6 linked regions of the Homo sapiens genome follow. The protein of the gene in region 4 purifies or fractionates together with the protein of the main gene of each other region. This does not show direct contact. Each region holds a gene or a part of one and is shown on either strand. Other genes may lie near its edges.

Evidence for each region.
Region 1: the proteins of ACAT2 (region 4) and TRAPPC8 purify together in Homo sapiens (affinity purification with mass spectrometry, with the first as the bait; one large-scale study listed by BioGRID). This does not show direct contact.
Region 2: the proteins of ACAT2 (region 4) and PRRC1 fractionate together in Homo sapiens (co-fractionation; one large-scale study listed by BioGRID). This does not show direct contact.
Region 3: the proteins of ACAT2 (region 4) and HADH fractionate together in Homo sapiens (co-fractionation; one large-scale study listed by BioGRID). This does not show direct contact.
Region 5: the proteins of ACAT2 (region 4) and FAM174A purify together in Homo sapiens (co-immunoprecipitation; one large-scale study listed by IntAct). This does not show direct contact.
Region 6: the proteins of ACAT2 (region 4) and TTC39C fractionate together in Homo sapiens (co-fractionation; one large-scale study listed by BioGRID). This does not show direct contact.

Annotation. Positions count from the first base shown.
Region 1 is NC_000018.10:31,908,629-31,912,128, forward strand, and holds part of TRAPPC8 (trafficking protein particle complex subunit 8), read right to left. Parts: intron 1,133-3,500; coding exon 1,039-1,132; intron 1,017-1,038; exon of another isoform or gene 956-1,016; coding exon of another isoform or gene 916-955; intron 386-915; coding exon of another isoform or gene 383-385; coding exon 126-382; intron 1-125. UniProt on the Homo sapiens protein: Plays a role in endoplasmic reticulum to Golgi apparatus trafficking at a very early stage. Maintains together with TBC1D14 the cycling pool of ATG9 required for initiation of autophagy. Involved in collagen secretion.
Region 2 is NC_000005.10:127,527,640-127,531,139, forward strand, and holds part of PRRC1 (protein PRRC1), read left to right. Parts: intron 1-2,654; coding exon 2,655-2,757; intron 2,758-3,500. UniProt on the Homo sapiens protein: May act as a regulator of the protein kinase A (PKA) activity during embryonic development.
Region 3 is NC_000004.12:108,020,889-108,024,388, reverse strand, and holds part of HADH (hydroxyacyl-coenzyme A dehydrogenase, mitochondrial isoform 2 precursor), read right to left. Parts: intron 916-3,500; coding exon 826-915; intron 1-825. UniProt on the Homo sapiens protein: Mitochondrial fatty acid beta-oxidation enzyme that catalyzes the third step of the beta-oxidation cycle for medium and short-chain 3-hydroxy fatty acyl-CoAs (C4 to C10).
Region 4 is NC_000006.12:159,772,045-159,775,544, reverse strand, and holds part of ACAT2 (acetyl-CoA acetyltransferase, cytosolic), read right to left. Parts: intron 376-3,500; coding exon 232-375; intron 1-231. UniProt on the Homo sapiens protein: Involved in the biosynthetic pathway of cholesterol.
Region 5 is NC_000005.10:100,562,874-100,566,373, reverse strand, and holds part of FAM174A (membrane protein FAM174A precursor), read right to left. Parts: intron 1-3,500.
Region 6 is NC_000018.10:24,084,254-24,087,753, reverse strand, and holds part of TTC39C (tetratricopeptide repeat protein 39C), read right to left. Parts: intron 1-3,500.

The sequences.
Region 1 (3,500 bases), on a different chromosome or scaffold from region 4:
GGGAAGTCTTAATATTGGCCTATCTTAAAACGAAAATAAAACAAAACTTCAAATACGTTTAATAATTCTTAAATTTACTATTTACTTAAATTTTTAAAATACTAATCCAAAAAATCAAACCTTACCTGATCGTTTAATTGCCTAATTGTTTTCTCTATATGTGGCAAAAGGCCCCGAAATGTGAACTCTTGTATAAACTGTCGAATTCTATCATGATCAGTAAGTGTTAAACATGCACCATGAATTATTCCAGTATTTCCTTTCTTTGTTTCATGTAACGATGAAGCAGATCTTAGATGATCTGGGCCATCAATACTGTTAGAAGGGTCACTGGATTGCTCCAACTGAAGTGGGTGAGCTCTAAAGTTATTTGGTAAGCCATCTACTGAAAAAGAGATTATTTCTTTTACTCTCAGAATGCAACAGAAAACAGTGCTAATACTACCATACTGCTAAAGAAAAAAAAAAAGCAGAATGTTAAAATCCTTTATCTTTCAGTATAGGTAAATGTCTAAGATAAAACAGCAGTAACATCCCCCAGCCCCAAAATTAATGAGCTTGAGTTAATATTTGTTTTGGTACCTGTATTAGTAATTTGAAAATCGGTATAAACCAGGAAATGGAGAAAAATACTTTATTTTAAATAATATAAAGAATGACTTTTAAATAGTACAACTAAGCCGTAAGAAAAAATATAACAAAAAAAATTTGTTATCATTACAAAAATCATAAAGTCAGAAATAAAGCTCTCAAAATCATGTAAATTTTTAAATAATTAATGCTGTGCATCACATCTTCCCTTGCTTTCTACAAAATATTTTAAAAGAAATCTATACACTACTCATATAAAACAAATTTTTAAGTGTCAAAAACAAACTCAAGTAGCTCAGTAAAATCTTCAGAAGAAAAACTAACCTGCCCAATATCTTTCTGTATTATGAAAAATTTCCCCCATCTTTTATCTATAAAGGTTAGCATGATCTGACAACAGTGCATATTTTCAATCAAAAGAGAAACTTAGAGAAAATATATCAAGACCTTTGACTTCGTTATCTAATCCATCCAATGAAAGCAAGTTATTATCAGAATTCTTATTTGAAGTTATAGTACAAGGGCCATCTTCATATGATTCCTATCAAAATAAAATTTAAAAAGCATTAGCAGTTATACTTAATCATACTTAATATACTATCAAATCCATCAACAACTATGGTTACTCTGCTAACTGTTGGCCTCATTTATTTGCTACAGTGAGCATTTTCTCGTCCTCCAAATTCATAACTTCTTCCATGGATCTTATTCTATCACTCCAACTCACACCTACTATATTCTTAAATCCCCTTTCACACTCAAGCTACTATCCTAATTCTTCTTAATTCAAATTATCTCTCAGGATATCTACTTATATATGATATGTATATACACGAGTGTTCATATAAGCACATACATATGCTTATGCCTCTTAAGTAAGGAATAATGGCAAGAGAGATGGACTACTAGAGTCAGACGGGGAAAGAAGAGAGGCACAGATATGAAATTCTTTGGGTCACAGTGTAAGCAGGTTGGAGTGAATTCTGAATATACTGAAGTGTTTTAGAAAAATATCTAACGCAACGTTTATTTGTGCAAAGGAACTGGTTTCTCAGTTAACAAAAAAACACTTAAACTAAAAATACCCAGACTACTCTACAAGACCAGTAAATATGATGTATTATTCTGAGTGTCACACTTTGAGGGAATTTACATAAACTAGAACTCAAGAAGAAAGTGACCAGGACAAGAAAGTCTGAAGCCACTCCTTGAGAAAGAGTTGCAGAAACTAGGCATATTTAGACTGGAAAAATATAAAAGAGGACATGAGAATTATCCTTCTATATTTTGAAAGTTGTCTTAATGGAAAACTAACATAGTCACTCCCAAAGGATCAAGCGTACAAGCAAAGGTCAAGAATTTTTTATTGATCCTTAAGCAAAATGAGAGAATTTTTGGGTGATCAGACATGCAATAGGTCACTTAATAAGAATACAGTGAGTACTGTCAACAGACGCAGTCATTCGTAAGTTTAAAGAAATTAAAGCATTAGATCAAGCATTGGATGTAAAACCTCTAAACTATTCTCCAACTTTGAGCTTCTAGGATGCTAAGGCATAGATTTCTGATATTTCTGCTTTCTGCTAAAAGTTCTCATACTGCACAATCTTCTTCATGTTCCCCTTCACAACCTTAGGTGACTGAACTCTAAAGTGTATTTTTTTCAGTACTGTTCTTATTCTTAGAATGGCCCCTAAAAGACCATTTTTAAAAATAAAGTTCCTTCACATCCAACTGGTACTTCTTTGCTTTTCCCCAGCATTATCTTAAAGAACGTCAGTAATCACCTCAATACTAAAGTCAGTAAAATACCATGATAGCACTACATTTAGATTTAAAGATTCCATTTATGAGACAGAAAAATAAAGCAAATAAACAGATTAAACAATACTTATATCAGAAGATCAAAAATTACATAAGCTTTGTAATTGATTTTTTAAATGTCACACACAGAGTGCATAATATAGTTTAATTGAACAATATAAATATATTTTCCATTTACTTAAGAATTTCTAGGCCAGGCGCTGTGGCTTACGCCTGTAATATCAACACTCTGGGAGGCTGAGGCGTGTGGATCACTTGAGGTCAGGAGTTCAAGACCAGCCTAGCCAACAGGGTGAAACCCTGTCTCGACTAAAAATGAATCGCTTGAACCCAGGAGGTGGAGGTTGCAGTGAGCCGAGATCTCGCCACTTCACTCCAGCCTGGGCAACAGAGTGAGACTCCGTCTCAAAAAAAAAAAAAAATTTCTGGCCGGGTGTGGTGGCTCAGCACTTTGGGAGGCTGAGGCAGGGGGATAACTTGAGGTCAGGAGTTCGAGACCAGTCTGGACAACATGGTGAAACCCCATCTCTACTAAAAATACAAAAATTAGCCAGGCGTGGTGGCGGGCGCCTGTAATCCCAGCTACTCGGGAAGCTGAGGCATGAGAATAATTTGAATCCAGGAGGCAGCTGTTGCAGTGAGCCGAGATCATGCAGTGAGCCGAGATCATGCCACTGCACTCCGGCCTGGGCGATAGAGTAAGACTCCGTCTCAAAAAAAAAAAAAAAAAAAAAAAAGAATTTCTTCTAGGCCGGCATGATGGCTCACACCTGTAATCCCAGCACTTTGGGAGACCAAGGCCTGGGCGACAGAGCGAGATCCTGTCTCAAAAAAAAAAAAAAAAAAAATTTTCTTCTAAACAAAAAACAGTGACTCTCGATTATCTGAACTAAGCATAGGAACTTGGCATTTGACTACTACCAAGCGGCATACTATTGTACCTTAGAAGTCTGACAAAACATCAAACGCCCATCAACTTAAGCCAATAGGACAATCAATCTTATTCTAGAACTCGAGGTTAAGAAAGGAGTAATTAAAAAACAGTAACTCCTGAGAGTACATAAAGAAGGGAAATCAACGGAAAG
Region 2 (3,500 bases), on a different chromosome or scaffold from region 4:
GTCCCATGTACTCAGAGGCTAAGGTGGTAGGATTGTTTGAGCCCAGGAGGTCCAGGCTGCTTGAGCTGTGATCATGATACTACATTCCAGTCTAAGTGACAGAGTGAGACACTGTCTCAAAAAAAAAAAAAAAAAAAAACCAAAAAACTATGATGAGCACTGTTGTATGTAAATCTTTATGGACATCTTTTTTTCCTCCGAATTAATTCCTGATGAACATTTGAGTGAACATTTGAAGAAATTGATACCTATTCCACTTCAGGAGGTTTATACCAAAATACACTGGTATAACATTTTTCACTTGCCAGCAGTAGTTATTAATTTGGACTAGGGTATTTTCTGATTTGACAGGCAAAAAATAATACCACATTTTAATTTGCTTTCCTTTGCTACTGAATTTGAACATTTTCTCGTATGATTTTTAGCCATTTGTATTCTTCTTTTGTGAAATATCGGTTATGTTCTTTGCCTAGTTTTAAATTGGGATGATTTTCTTTTCTTATGAATTTGTAAGAGCTCCTAATACAGTAAGAATACTTTTCTATATGCTCTCATATGTTGCAGTTTTCTCAATTTTTAGTTTACATTTTCATTTTAATACCCTTTTTGACAGAAAAGTTCAATTTCAGGAGTCAGTTCTGTCAGTCTTTTCTTTTCTTTTTTCTTTTCTTCTCTTTTCTTTTCTCTTTTTTGAGACAAAGTCTCGCTCTTGTCGCCCAGGCTGGAGTGCAGTGGTGCGATCTTGGCTTACTGCAACCTCTGCCTTCTGGGTTCAAGCAATTCTCCTACCTCAGCCTCCCAAGTAGCTGGGATTACAGGCATCTGCCTCCATGCCTGGCTAATTTTTTTGTATTTTTAGTAGAGACGGGGGTTCACCATGTTGGCCAGGCTGGTCTCGAACTCCTGACCTCAGGCGATCTGCCCGCCTCGCCTCCCAAAGTGCTGGGATTACAGGTGTGAGCCACCGCAGGCAGCCTCTCCTTTTCTTTACATTTTTTTTTAATGCTAAAAAAGACCTTTTCTCACTACGATACTGTGATAAATGTTCTTCTGTGATCCCTTTCTAGTTCCCTTAATGTTTAATTTTTTAGACACTTAGCGTTTAATATAGTTGATATTTCTTTACTATATGAGGTAGAGATCAAACTTAATTTTCTTCCAGCTACTCAATGGAGTATTTCAATATCATATCCCCATTGATTTGGTATGATCCCTATATTATCTTCCTTAAGAAATTGTGTGTTAAAATCAGCTTCTGGCCTCTGTATTCTAGTCCACTGCTGTTTCCCTGTTCTTGTAGTAGAGCACACTGTTTTAATTACTTTTACTTTGTGTTCATTGTACTAACGTGTACTGAGGTGGGGATGTGGAACATTCAGTGATAAGTAAGATAGGACAGTTCAAGTCTGCATTTATAAATGTATATCAGTATTTAGTTGTGTAAGTTGTATAAGCTGGCTGATTTTTCTTTTAAATTTTTCTTTACTCATCTTTCCCAATTTTTTTTGCAATGAATTTTGAAATCATTCTGCCAAGTTCCAATATTCTGCTAAGGGTTTGTTTGCAATTTTATTATTATAATTATAATTTATTATTATATTAAAGATTTAAAATTGGTAGATGATTGGCTGATTTGTAGTATTTGAGCTTCATGTTTCAGGAATGTGGCATTTTTCTAAGCTTGTTTATTTTTTAATACCCCTCTGTACTTTTTTAAAAAGTTTTTTTTTGCATACAGACTACAACATTTTGTCCCTCGTTAAGAGCATGTGTCAGTGTGTTTGTCATGAGTTGTAATACCCAGTTCAACTCTATAGGTCTTGTAAATAGTAAGTCATGATGTTTCAGCATATGGTTGGTTGGCAGTCTTAAATTTCAATTTTATGAACTCATCTTTTCCTGAGTCACCTTAGTTTAATGGCAGATTGGAAGATGGGGAATCATGGCAGGTTAGTCAGATGCCATCTCAGGAGGCACTGCTCCCTGGAGTGTCTTTTACCCTTTGTGAAGTATCGCACAAGAAGGAATACTCAAGACTTGGTTCCTTTTAGTAGTAACGGCTCTAAGAATCCAGAGGAATAGATCTGAATATAAATGGCGAGTTTGGGAATGTACAAAACAAGAAACAAGAAGTAGGAAAAAGAAGAAACTAGTAGAAGATAGCAAAATGTTGTACGTTAAGGTAATAAGTAACTGTTCTGCCCCCAGACGAGAGGTGTTTTTACTCTTTTTATTTTTTTTATTAGGGAACAAGTATGGACTTACGTAGACACCTGATTGGGACCTTTATTTGGGACCCTAAGGGACAAGTTTTGCCCAATCTTTTATATAAATAAGTAGAAGTGAAATTATATATATGTATATACACACACATATATATGTATATATAGTATAGCATCCTTTCCATACCCATGCTACTCAAAGCGTGATCTGTAGATTGCTGCTGGTCTACACACTGCTGAGTCAGGAAAAAAAATTGAGAGTATCATTTAGAAACTTAATAGCAATTTGATATTGTCATGACCTTATATATCTTACAAAAGTACTGGTTTAGGATGCATTGGAAACTTTTAAAAAAGTTTTCTTCACAATCATGAAGATCATGGTGTTCCTCACTTAGAGTGAATACTTACATATTGATTTGTTTTATGCAGGGTGTGGCTGGGAATCCTATGGTGAAGTCTGTGCTTGATAAGACAAAACATTCAGTAGAAAGCATGATTACAACGCTGGACCCTGGCATGGCTCCCTATATCAGTATGTACATAAGTTAGACCGGTATCTGCCATTTTTTTTTTAAGGGTATGTCCACATCAGCCACTAATTGTAATTCTCTGTTCGTTTCCACTGATTGTGTAATCAGTGGAAATTCTTATTATATTCTTGCATTAATTTAATTGTCAGTCTTATTTTTTGGTGTTACTAATTCATCTTTTTTAAAAGTCATTAAATAAATTTTGAAAATCCCACAGAATGATCCTAGAAGGAGTAAAAACCATGAATTATTGGTATACTTGCTGATTTTAATTTTAAATATAGGTTAGCATTGCTTTATATGAATTTTACTTTATTCACTACTGACATTTGAAGTGATGTTTGTTTCATACTTTTTTTTTTTTTTACATTTCTCCTGTTATCTATTTTAATTAAATGTTTGTGTGTAATTGAGGGATAATATTTTTGGAGGAAGCAAATCTAGTTAATAATATCTAATGACTGGGTATATTGGGAAAGCTATTTTTAACCACCTCTGAACACTAATCATCCAGAATCATCCAGACAGTTGATAGATACTGTCTGCTATTTAATTTTTATGTACATATCCAATATGTGAAAAAATATCACAAGGCTTAGTGACCAATTATTAGTAATTCTGTAAAAGATAACTTTTAAGTCAAAATTGTGCAGCAGGTACCTGAACAGCGATTTCAGTGGCAATAAAAAGCCAATAGCTTTCACAAGTCTTGACTATGTTGGTAGTTTACTGTCTAGTAAATATC
Region 3 (3,500 bases), on a different chromosome or scaffold from region 4:
GATACAAAGGATTACAGTTAAAAAAAAAGTAGATGACTTATATGTAAATCTTTGTAATGGTGTAGCATTTTGTGACACAACTACCCCTTAAGAAAAACTGCAAAGTCATGCATAAGTATAGTCCCCGAGTTTTGGGGGAACTAAAGAGGAACTAAAGCAAATGGAGAAACTGAAGGTAATCAAAATAATTACCTTCAGGTAGGTTATCATTTCAGCAACTGGGATTATTTTATATACAATAACTGGGCAGCTTAAGAAAGGGGAAAAAAAAGATGGAGGTCAAGCAGGCTTCCCACTAAACCATGCTGCTTCTTGAAAAACAAAACAACAAACAATAAAAACATAATGCAACTTCCCGGTGAGAAACAGGTTCCTTATTGCTATTTTGGCAGGTTGCTCTCTCACTGTCTTATCATTTATTTCACCATCTGTAGTATTTCTTGCAAAAGTAAAGCCCTCATTTTCTGTTAGGGAGGTATGTGTTTACCAAGCTGTACCTAAAATCATTTATGAAAATGCAGCCATTCATCAGGAGACAAAAGCCAGGACAGAGAGCAGTCCCGTGTCTTCTACTCAGCTGGTGTCCTGAGCTCCATTCAGGTCTCAGACTATCCACATAATGGCCTTAGGCATGGCTTAGGAGTCCAGTTTCCCTGTCTACAAACTAGAACAGGAGGCACGGATTGCTCTTTACAGCATGTGGACAAGCTTGCAGTATACAATGCTCCTTCTTTCACATCATTCTATGAGAAGAATTCTACCAGGAACAAGTCAGGGTCCAAGAAGAAAAGAACTACCTCCTTCCCAAGCTACCCATACTCTTACCTTGCAAGAAACAGGATGCTTTCCTAGGGCTTTGCTAAAGTCTACCAAAGATTCAAATGTCTTCTGGCTGGTCATTGGTGTTTTAATGACCTGGAAATGCAAAGCAGAGAATTATGACCAGAGTGTCAGCAAGCAACTTCGGTAGAATGGTTCAAGGAATGATTGATCAAAAGGCTCCATATAGGCAACAAAAATAGTTTGAGTTTCAGCATAGAAGTAGGAATCTCAAGCCAGAAACAATGTATTTCCCAAAATGACTATTTTAAAACAGAGGCCAAATGTGGTGGCTCATGCCTGTAATCCCAGCACTTTGGGAGGCTGAAGCGGGCAGATCATGAAGTCAAGAGATCGAGACCATCCTGGCTAACATGGTGAAACCCTATCTCTACTAAAAATACAAAAATTAGTTGGGCATGGTGGCATGTGCCTGTAGTCCCAGCTACTTGGGAGGCCCAGGCAGAAGAATTGCTTGAACCTGGGAGGTGGAGGTTGCAGTGAGCCGAGATCATGCCACTGCACTCCAGCCTGGGTGACAGAGCAAGACACCGTCTCAAAAAAAAAAAAAAAAAGACAACAGTGTACTGTAGAATGTACAAAATCACGGCTTAAAATACAAGTGTATGTGTGTACGTGTGTGTATAGGACAGTTTTACAGGCTTTGTTGTTGAGACAAGCCTGGGTTCAGTTGCACCACTTACTGGCTGTGTGACCCTGAGTATGTTTCTTGAAACTGAAATGACACTGAAATCACTCTGTTCACCTCAGGAAGTTGAGGTGAGAATGAAATTACATTGGGAGTAAAGCACAAAGCCTAAGCACAAATGCTCAATAAATGCTGACTTCCATTATTTAATTATTAGAAGTCTGGAAGTATATGATGGTTGCCCTTAAAGTCTTCTACGTGGGACCTGATCTTCTATTATAGAGGAGGAGGAGCCCCAGGAAAGTGAGTAATTTGCCCAAGTGACAGTTCTCCTGGATTCCTGAGTATTTCTCCCATGACTCCACCCTCTGCCACACAGATGCTCTAGAGGCCAGCGGCCCCTTGGCTTCAGAACAGACTCATCCTTCTGGGGAAGGCTTTCATTTACAGCAAGCGGGGCCTGCCACCTGCTCCAGCAGCCCTCCTGACCTCTGTGAGGTACAGGCAAGGGCACAAGGGCTGCCCTACTGGCATCTGTAGGGGATGGCACCAAGCACGATGCCCGGCACAGTCAGCCCTCAGTAAGCAGTTAGAGAACTCATGTGTAATGGTAAATGGAAAGAACCAGATGAAGTATATATATATATATTTTTAAACAGGAGAGATGCGTGTTTATTCACTCATTCATTCAACTATACACACACACACACACACACACATACACACACACATACACACACACACACACACACATATATATATGTAAAATGTAAAGGCCAGTAAAGAACTTCAATCGGAGTCAAAGGGTTTACTTTAGACCCTTCATGGGATCTTAGGCAACTGCCTCACCTCTCTTCTCTGGAATGGGGATCATGGGCATGTCTTCCCTGTGCAAGAGGGCCGTCTGACTCGGTGAACTAATGAGCTAGTGTCTGTGCAGGGATGAAAGGTGCTATATAAACAAAGAAGAGTTCTCACTCCTGTTTTCGTGTGATCACAGCCTGGGCCATGGTGTCATGTCGTGACATCAAGAGAAGTGAATGGATGGAAACAGGAAAAGACACAGTGAAGATGGAGAAGAGGAGCAGGACGAGAAAGACCAGAAGCCACCCTGCGGGTACCACAAATCAAACAGAATCCCAGAGCTGTTTGAAAGGAGGTCTAAAAAGTCTCCATCAAAACCACAGACTGAGCTGGGGGACAAACACTGCTGACTATGGAGTTTTCAAATTAAGTTTTTGGTTTAAGGGAGTTAATAATAGTGAAGGTTTGTTTCTTTTTAAACAGGAGAGATGGATGTTTATTCACTCATTCATTCATTCAACGAACAGTAATTTGTACAGATACGCTGCTCCTAGTTCCAACAGAGTCTGAAAAAAAATACATATATATATACATTTAAATGAGCCCAGTCCTAAGTAAAGGAGCCACTTAGCTTATTATACAAGTTATTTTGGTGTACACCACCAGCAACACAAGGAAGAGCTAAAGTTAAACAATAAAAACTGAATAGAGAAGAACACTTTTACAAAATACTTTCTAAAAAATAGTAGCATTTGCTAAACATCAGCTGTTAACAACCAACACACTACATTTCCAAAGACAAAAGCATACATTACCAGATAAATGCAGTTGAAAACATTATTAAAGTAAATCTACAGAATGTGCCTATCTCCAAAACACTTATATATACAATATAATAACTAAAGAAATCAACTAGTCCCTAAGTACTGAAATGTTGGAAATGCATGCCACTTCTTTGCTCTTAATCTGCATGAGATAAGAGCTGTTAAATGCTGTTTCTTCTGTTCCCCAAATCCCTCCCCTTCATTCTTCAATTTCTTCAAAAAATCAGCCTTAGGGGATAGGAGAAAATAGGAGGAAGCTGAGAAGCAATGTTAGTAAGACAGAAAAAGTCCCATTGCAAGATGGTCAAAGTTGTCACTTGAGAGAAAATGCTAAAAAAAATGGTCATTATTATGACTTATTAAAAATGCTTATGCTGAGTAGTGGTGAGGGAATGAGGAGGATA
Region 4 (3,500 bases):
GGTCATGGACGCTCTGGAACCAAGAGTGCTTGAGTGCTGACATAGGTCCCATGTTACCGTGTCCTGTAAACCCAGCATACCCCCTCCCCACATTCATGTATCCAGGACATATATTTGCAACCTGAAAAACATAACTAAGATATAATTTCTAAAGATTCCTATGTATTACTCTTTTAGATGTTACTCTTACCTATAAATAGGTTGATGTTTAAACCACTATGATATACTCACCTTTTCTAGTTGACACCAAAACTGGTACAATCTCTTTGTCAAAATGGCCAGCTTTCTGTGCATTCTCTGTCCTGTTCTGGGACAGAACTGCAACCTTGTCCTGATCTTCTCTACTCACTTGCCATTTTTTGGCTACATTTTCAGCTGGGAAAGGAGAAAAACAGCAAAAAACTAACATTTTCATGAACTGGCATTTGATAGCTCAAGTCGTCCACATTTGACCAAGCACTGACTGACCACATATGCTAGCAGGCTCATGGTGGCCTGTGCAATGCTCTGTGTGGGGTGGCCCTGCCTGCCACTGGCAGTTGGTTTGGAAATGTTGCAGTGACTCTCAGGAGTCATACTTCTCTCCTTCCCTTTCTATATAATTGTAAACTTACAGAAATTTCCTTCACCCAGAGTCACCATTTATATTTTCCCTCCATTTGCTTTAATATTTTCTTTCTGAACCATCTGAGAGAAAGTTGGAGATACAATGCCTTCTTACTCTTAAATTTTAATTTCAGTGTATACTTCCCCAAAACAAGGCCACTTTCTTACATAAGCACAGTTATAAAACTCAAGAAATTGGGCCAAGTGTGGCGGCTCACACCTGTAATCCCAGCATTTTGGGAGGCCGAGGTGGGAGGATCACTTGAGCCCAGGAGTTTGAGACCAGCCTGGGCACAGCGAGACCCTGTCTCCATTAAAAATAAATTTAGCCGGGCATGGTGTGTGTGCCATGTAGCTAGTAGTCCTAGCTGCTTGGGAGGCTGAGGCAGAAGGATCACTTGAGCCTAGGAGTTCAAGGCTGCAGTGAGCCATGATTGTGCCTCTGCACTCCAGCCTGGGTGACCCTGTCTCACAAAACAAAACAAAAATCAGGAAATTTAACATGAATCAAACACTATTATCTAATCCTTGGTCCACATTCAAATTTCACCTATATTTCAGTAATGTCCTTCTAGCTCCTTTATTTGAGCCAATAAAGAAGCATGCATTGTACAACTATCAATCTCTCTAGTTTGCTTTTGTCTGTAACAGTTCTTCAGACTATGCTTCTTAAGCTTGATATTTTTGAAGAACATGGGCGAGTTCTTTTGTTAAGGGTCATCAATTTTGATTTGTCTGATGTTTCCTCAGAATTAGATTAAGATTCTGCCAAAAGGCAGGTATACCACTGAATGATAGTATGATTTTTCTCAGTGAGTCTTATTAGGACACAAATGACAATCAGTTTATCCCAGGTGATGTTATCTTTGATCACTTGGTTAAAATGGTTTGGTATTCACCAGGTTTCTAGCTTTTAAAGGTACCATTTTTTCATTTATAAGTAATCAATAATTTATCAGAGGTTCTTTTTGGATTATCCAAATATCTTCTTCCCCATCATATTTTCACCCACTAGTTTTAGCATTCATTCATGACTTTCTAACTCCAACATTCCTTCTATTGGTAAGATATTAATTGGCATTTTACCACAAAGAAAACCTTTTCCTTTTCTCCCATTTATTCAGTTATTTATATCAGGATGGACTCATACATTTTCATTTTATTGAATAAGTTATAACTCATTACTCTCATTACTTACTTTGATGCTGAAATTTTTCAATACTTGGGCAGTTATAACCCATTACTATCATTACTTATTTGCACGCTGAAATTGTTCAAAATTTAGGCAGTTACAACCCATTACTATCATAACTTATTTGCACGCTGAAATTGTTCAAAATTTGGGCAGTTACAACCCATTACTATCATTACTGACTCTGATGCTCAAATTGTTCAAAATTCCACTACAGGAAAGTGGAAGCCCCGTAGGCTGCCTCCTGTGTGCTTTCAACATGTCCCTGAGCATGTCCTTAATTTTTTAGCATTTTTTCCCTAGCCTTGGAAAGGGCCATTTCTCCAAACAACCTTAGTTCCTTTTAGTGGATAAATGTATTTAGAAGATCTGGGTGTCAGGACTGCTTGTTGTTACTGGTTTGTCATTGTTTCTAGGTCTGTTCAGTAGAAACTTCCATATGTATTATTTATAATTTTACATATACACACACACTCATGGTAACACCTTGAGTTCATACTGCATTTTGAGTTCTCCAAAATGCAACCTAACACCACAAGCTACATTCTTCTCCCTTTCCGTATTTGTAACTCTCTTCTACAAATGTGAGAATTGGCCAGGTTTGGTGGGTCACACCTGTAATCCCAGCACTTTGGGAGGCTGAGGTGGGAGGATCCCTTGAGCTCAGGAGTTTGAGGCCAGCCTGGGCAACATGGTGAAACCCCATTTCTACAAAAAATACAAAAAATTAGCCAGGCATGGTGGTGAGTACCTGTGGTCCCAGCTACTCAGGAGGCTGAGGTGGGGGTTGCAGTGAGCCAAGATTGAGCCACTGCACTCCAATCTGGGTGCCAGAGTGAGACCCGTCTCCACACACACACACAAAAAAGTTATTGCTTTGCTTTCTATGTCTTGTCTTTACTTATCAAGCTGTTTTTCTTTCTTTTTTTTTTTTTTTGTTGGATGATGTCTCACTATGTTGACCAGGCTGGAGTGCAGCAGCTACTAACAGGCAAAATCAACCATAGTATACTATACAACCTCAAACTGCTGGCCTCAAGTGATCCTCCCACCACAGCCTCCCTAGTAGCTGGGACTATAGGCACCTGCCACTGCACCCTGTAAAAGCTATTCTCTTATATATACTTCTAGAAGCTTTACATTTTTTGCTTTTATTTTTAAATCCACGATTTATCTCAAATTAGCTTTTATATAGGGTGTGAGGTAGGGATCTAGGTTCATCTTTCCCATGTGAGTAATCTGTTATTCCAGCACCATTTGTTGAAAAGACTTTAATTTCTCCATTTCATTCCATTGATGCCTTTGTTGAAAACAAGCATAAGTCTGGGTCTATTTCTGAACTCTGTTCTCTTTCTCTGTCCTTATGCCAAAACCACATTGTCTTGTTTACAACAGCTTTATAGGTAATGTTAAAATCAGAGCATGTAAGTGCTATTTTCTGACTTCAAAATTGTTTTGGCTATTCTGAGTGCTTTGCATTTTATACAGTATTTATTTACACTATTTATTTATTTATTTAGAGATGGAGTTTCATTCTTGTTGCCCAGGCTGGAGTGCAATGGTGCAATATCTCAGCTTACTGCAACCTCCGCCTCTTAGGTTCAAGCAAGTCTCCTCCCTTGGCCTCCAGAGTAGCTGGGACTACAGGCACCTGCTGCAACACCTGGCTAATTTTTTGTAGTTTTAGTAGAGATGGGGTTTC
Region 5 (3,500 bases), on a different chromosome or scaffold from region 4:
TCACTACTATAAGCTTGACTATTTAGATTCCATATATAAGTGAGATAATGCAATATCTGTCTTTCTATGTTTGGATTGTTTCAAATAACATAAATTCCTCCATGTTCATCCATGTTGTTGCAAATGTCCAGATTTTCTTTTTTTTAAGGCTGAATAATATTCAATAGTATATCATACATGTAATTATATATATTATATGTACATATATATATATATATATATATATATATATCATACTTTTCAAATTCATTTATCTGTTGATATGGTTTGGCTGTGCCCCCACCTAAATCTCATCTTGAATTGTAGCTCCCTTAATCCTCAGGTATCATGGAAGGAACCTGGTGGGAGGTAATTGAAACACAGGGGCAAGTTTTTCCCATGCTGTTCTTATGATATTGAATAAGTCTCATGAAATCTGATGGTTTTATAAAGGGTGGTTCCCCTACACATGCTCTCTTGCCTGCCATCATGTAAGATGTGCCTTTGCTCCTCCTTTGCCTACTGCCATGATTGTGAGGCCTCCCTAGCCATGCAGAATTGTGAGTCCATTAAACCTCTTTTTCTTTATAAATTACCCAGTCTCCGATATTTCTTCCAAGCAGTATGAAAACGGACTAATACATCTGTCAATGCACATTTAGGTTATTTCCACAGCTTGATTAATATGAATAATGCTGCAGTGAACATGGGAGTGCAGATCTCTCTATGTAATAATGGTTTCCTTTGGATATATATCCAGCAGCAAAACTGCTAAATCATAAGGTAATTATATTTTTAATTTATTGAGGAATTTCTGTACTGCTTTCCATAACAGCTGTGCCAACTTACATTCCCACCAACAGAGTACAGGGGTCATGTGCCCATTTTAAAATCAGATTATGTGAGATTTTTGGCTATTAACTTACATGCACTCCTTATAAATTTTGGATATTAACTCATATATATATGTATATACATATATGGTTTATAAATATTTTGTCCCATTATTAAAGTTCCTTTTCACTCTGATGATTATCTACTTGGCTGTGCAGAAGCATTTTAGTTTGATGCAACCTCATTTGTCTATGTGGATAGCACTGTCAAATGCTTTTTCTGTGTCTACTGAAATGATCTTGTGGCTTTTTTTCTTTCAACCTATTAATGTGTTCTATTGCATTGATTTGCATGTGTTGAAAGATATTTGCATTCCAGGGACAAATCCCACTTAATCATGGTGTATCATCATTTTAATATGCTGCTGAATTTGGGTAACTAGCATTTTATTGAGGACTTTTGTATCATGTTCATCAGGAGTATTGGCCTGCGGTTTGCTTTCCTTCGTCTGGCTTTGGTATCAGGATAACACTAGCCTCATAAAATGAGTTTTAAAGTGCTTCTTCTTCTATTTGTCAGAATAATTTGAGAAGGACGAGTATTAATTCTTCTTTAAATGTCTGGTATAATTTACCCATGAAGCCATATGGTCTTGGACATTTCTTTGTTGGAAGGTTTTGACTACTGATTCAATTTCCTTATTTGTTACTTGTCTGTTTGGACTTCGAATTTCTTTTTGATTCAAGTTTCATAGATTGTATGTTTCTAGGAATTTATCTATTTTTCTAGGTTATCAAATTTGTTGGCATATAATTGTTCATAGTAGTCTCATGTCTTCTTTAATTTCTGAGGTACCCATTGTAATTTCTTCTCTTTTATTTCTGATTTTATTTATTTGAGCCTTTTCTTTTTTGCTTAGTCTAGCTAATGGTTTATTGATTTTATCTTTTCTATACGCAAAATCTTAATTTTATTGATTTTTCTCATTGTCTTTTTCAACTCTATTTAATGTATTTCTATTATAATCTTAATTATTTCCCTCGTTCTGCTAATTTTAGGCTTAGGCTTAAAGTGTTTTTCTTTTGCCACTTTCTGAAAGGGTAAAGCTAGGTTGTTTATTTGAAGTCTTTCTTCTTTCATAGCATAAGCATTTATTGCTATAAACTTCTCTCCTAGCAATGCTTTTGCTGCATCCCATAAGTTTTGTTATGCCATTTTTTTTTTGTCTCAAAATAGCTCTTAAAATTCCCTTTGATTTCCTATTTGACCCAATAATTGCTCAAGAGTGTGTTGTTCAGTGTATTAGTCCATTCTTTCATTGCTATAAAGACATACCTGAGACTGGGTAATTTATAAAGAAAAGAGGTTTAATTGGCTCGTGGTTCTGCAGACTATACAAGCATGGTGCTGACATCTGCTTGGCTTCTGAGCATATATCAGGGAGCTTTTACTCATGGTGCAAGGTGAAATGGGATCAGGTACTTCAAACGGCAAATATAGGAGCAAGGAGGAGCAGGTGCTACACACTTAAAACAACCACATTTTGCAAGAACTCACTATCACAAGGACAGCACCAAGCCATGAGGGATCAGTCCCCATGACCCAAACATCTCTGACCAGGCTTCAATTTCAGCATGGAGGGTTACAATTGACATGAGATTTGGCCTGGAGGTTTATTCAAACTATATCGTTTAGTTTCCACATATTTATAATTTTTCCTGTTTTCCTGCTGTTATTGATTTCTATTTCTATTCCATGGAGGTTGGAAAAGACACTTGGAATAATTTCAATCTTCTTAAAGTTGTTAAGACTTGTTTTGTGACCTAAGATGATTTATCTCAGAGTGCATCCCATGGGCACTTGAGAAGAATGTGAATTCTTCTGCTGTTGGGTGCAAAGTTCTGTATATGTCTGTCAGGTCCACTGGTCTACAGTGTTGTTTAAGTCAGAGGTTTCTTTATTGATTTTCTGTCTAGATAGTCTATTCATTATTGTAAGTGGGATATTAAAGTCCCATAAATTATTTTATGGCTGTCAATTTCCTACTTCAGATCTGTCAATATTTGCTTTATAATTTAGGTGCTCTGATAGAGTCATACTAATTGTCATATCTTCCTGGTGAATTGACTCCTTTACTATGTAATGATCTTTTTTTTTTTTGTCTCAAGAGATAGTTTTTGACTTAAAATCTAATTTGTCTGATATAAATTTAGCAACCCCTGCTTTGTTTTGGTTACCATTTGCATGGAATATCAGTTTCTGTCCCTTTTCTTTCATCTTATATGCGTCTTTAATTGAAAGTGAGTGCCTGAAGAACAGATGCAATTGTTTTGTTCATGTTTGCCTATTCAGGCTGTAATACTATTAAAATGTATAATTCATGAACATATTTGTATTAAATGAACAAATTATCAGCATTACTAAAAGTTCCTTTGTGTGTGTGCATATATATAAACAGCTTAGATAGATAGATGGATAGACATATATAGATATAAATATAGATATACAGGACTTAGTAGTCCAATTTTTGTTGAGTCATCTTCTTTTCTGTAATCCTAAGATTTCTGTTTTCTTTGCATTTGTACCTGACTCTGGACTCTAATTCTCCTTCACCCAAGTAATCCCTCTGGATTCCAAGATGTCTTTCCTTATTAGGTTGAATCTTTGTTGGCTTTTTTCCCCATTCT
Region 6 (3,500 bases), on a different chromosome or scaffold from region 4:
AATCAGCCAGGCATGGTGGTGCACACCTGTAATCCCAGCTACTCGGGAGGCTGAGACAGGAGAATCACTTGAACCCGGGAGGCGGAGGTTGCAGTGAGCCAAGATTGCACCACTGTACTCCAGCCTGGGTGACAGAGCAAGACTCTGTCTCAAAAAAAAACAAAAAAAAAACAGTTCTCAAAATGCTTGCATAGGAACTTTGTTAGAATATGTTCATTAACTTTATAGAAAACGACTTTCATTTATTTGAATATCTGAACACTTTTTTAGAGGTAAATAATATTAAAAATTAGTTACATTACTAGTCACACCATATAAGGTATGTGTGTGAAAGTATGTATTTACAGAAAACCAAATCCTTACATGTCACATACAAAGCAGATTGTTAAAGCTGAAAGAGAAAAAAGTTGTGTAAATCTGTATTGCTTAAAGAAGAAAGAGCAGAGACAACTGAAAACAGTTTATGAAAATATAGACTTGTCCCTAATATTGTAAAAATAATCAAGAAAAATACTCATTAATTGCTTGTATCTTAATGGACATAACACTACCATAGGTCTAACTGAATGAAAATTAAGTGAACATTAATGGAAAATACAGAAATTCAAAATTATAACTACCAATTCACATTTGAAAATTGAGATTCCTATATAACCCATTGGTCAGCCTCCCAAACATTGTTTGCATTGTGGAAATTCAGGGATAAGTAAACAGCTGTATAGTACATACATCTCCTATAGCTACACCCATAACCAATTTTGCCAATCACAGGCCTTGCTTTATTGACAGCTCTCAACACCAAACAAGTTCTTTTTCCCCAAAAGAAAAAAAAAAACAAAACACGAAAATGTGATACCTGACTTCCCATGCTTAAGCACTCAGTAGGAATAATAAACACCATCACACCCTTACTTAGACAGCGTTTGCCACATGCTAGGTACTGTATTCACACATTCATTCCCCCCAGCAATGTAGTAAGTCACATGGGAGGAGTCAAGGAAAATAGGATCAGCTGTAAGGACAACACAAGTGGGCAGAGAAGGTTCGAGGCACAGTACTATAGACACGCAGTGGGGAGAAGCGGAGGCAGCGAGACAAGGGAATTCTTTCTGCAGTTTGGCAAAGAGGATCCTGTGCTCACCAGCTGGGGTGCAAACGGACCTCACCATCATGGTGTAGCACTCACTGCAACATCAACTGAGGCCATAACAGAAAACAGCCAAGTCACCACAATGAGGTTTATGCAAGTGGCACGACAGGAGCAGATCTGTGGAAGAAATCCTCCTATATTCACTCTACAGAGTCCCAAACAACGAAAGGCAAAGTACGTAAAAAGTTAACAAAACTAAAAGAAAAAGTGGGCACTCAACAGGATTTGAAAATAACGAGTACAGAAGAATGAACACTGACGGGCACAGATTGAGACAGTCACCCTGCATGTTAGCAAGCTTACACAAAAGCAGCTGTTCAAATAATTTCACAGATTCTGAGTCACTGAAGAAACAAAGATGGTGTCATATAATGCACCTGCCCTAAATTAAAGCCCCTAGACCATGTTCTGTGAGTACGTGTTGATAAAAAGAGCTCAAGGGGCCCTATTTCTAACCTAAATGTTCACTGAAAAGAAAAAAAATTCTTTGTAAGCAAATTCATTGGAAGGAGTCATGTAAGTTTCATAAACTGAGTCAGGGCCTTCAAGGCCTTACAAACAGCCTTTGGCAAGGGCTATATCACAGCCTCCCTGGGCAGAGTTCCTCATCTGCAAATGAAGGATGACATGGTCATTTCTGATACCGTCCTACACATACCTGGGAAGAGCAATGAAACGCTGCTGTCTGGGCACCTTGGGGATAATAACAACCATATTTCAAGTTAGCCTTAAAATCTTTTCATCCTCTGGGCCTTTGGGAAGAGCCAAACAGAAACACTCATCATATTTTGTCTGGCCCTAAAGCTACAGCTCACTAAATAACCGTAGTCACAGATCTTGTGTGTTTTTTCTTAAAACTTAACTGTGTTAAGTGCCGCTTAACTGTGAAGGAGTTCTAGCACCTACCCTCTGCACTCTGATCACAATTATCTACCCCCAAATAGACTACATATCTACTAAGAGCTATAATGTGGACTATGTACCTCCAAAAACCATATTTACAGGAATCCTTTGATGAAGCTGTGGCTTCCTTATTTCTAGAACCATCTTGACAACAAGGAATGACTGCTTATGTTTAGTATTCACTCAATCCTCTATAGGAATTAGTCGTGGCACAAACTAAAACCATGTCAAAGTAAGATTTTTGGGAAAAAAACTTATTAGCTTAACCAAAAGTTAAGCAATTTTGTTTTAAAATGAAAAATTACTCAAATGGCAAGTATAACAAAATATAAATTCTGATTTTCACATTTCTGTTTAACAACTTCAAAACCCAATTTAGAGCATTCATTCATCAGCAGAATAAAGAGAGAGAATTCTAACAAATGTCCAAAGCTAAGGGGCCTCACTGCCCTGCTGCACACAATTTTAAACTTTAGGCTTCTAGATGGATCGCTGAAGAGATGACCGAGGTAAATCTCTCAATTCTACACTTTATTCGTCAATGCACCAATTAGAAACAGTAACCTGTCACCATGAATTTACTTTCCCCTTGTAATAAATATCTGTTAAACACTAAACCCAGCAAATCTCTGTTAAACACTAAACCCTGTAGCATCGTGTTCAAAGCTACTCAGAACTTGAAGAAATCTAAATCTGCCCTTGAAGAAATCTAAATCTAAGAAAGCACTCATCCTGAGGCCAGGCACAGTGGCTCACACCTGTAATCTCAGCACTTTGGGAGGCCGAGGCTGGAGGATCTCTTGAGCCCAGGAGTTTGAGACCAGACTGGCCAAAATAGGGAGACCCCATCTCTAAAAATAAAAATTCAAAAATTAGCCAGGCATGGTGTCGCACAGCAGTAGTCCCAGCTACTTTGGAGGCTGAGGTCGGAGGATCGCTTGAGCCTGGAAGGTTGAGGCTGAGGCTGCAGTGAGCTATGACTGTGTCACTGCATGCCAGCCTGGGCAACAGGGTGAGACCCGTCTCAAAAAGGAAAAGAAAAAAAACAGTGAGAGAAAAAAGGGAGAAACACAACCAAGGGCTCACGAGCCTGTATGCAAAGAAAAACAATTGCAAGATAATGAGAACAAAAACAATTTGGACACAGGTTTAAATAATTCAGATCTTGGTGGGCTTTCTGAACTATATCTCAATTTTATTTTATATATTTATTTTTGAGATGGAGTCTCACTCTGTCACCCAGGCTGGAGTGCAGTGGCGCAATCTCGGCTCACTACAACCTCTGCCTCCCAGGTTCAAGCGATTCTCGTGTCTCAGCCTCCCAAGTAGCTGGGATTACAGGCACGTACCACCATGCCCAGCTAGTTTATTGTATTTTTCGTGGAAACAGGGTTTCACCATGTTGGCCAGGCTGGTCTCGAACTCCTGACCTCAGGTGATACACCTG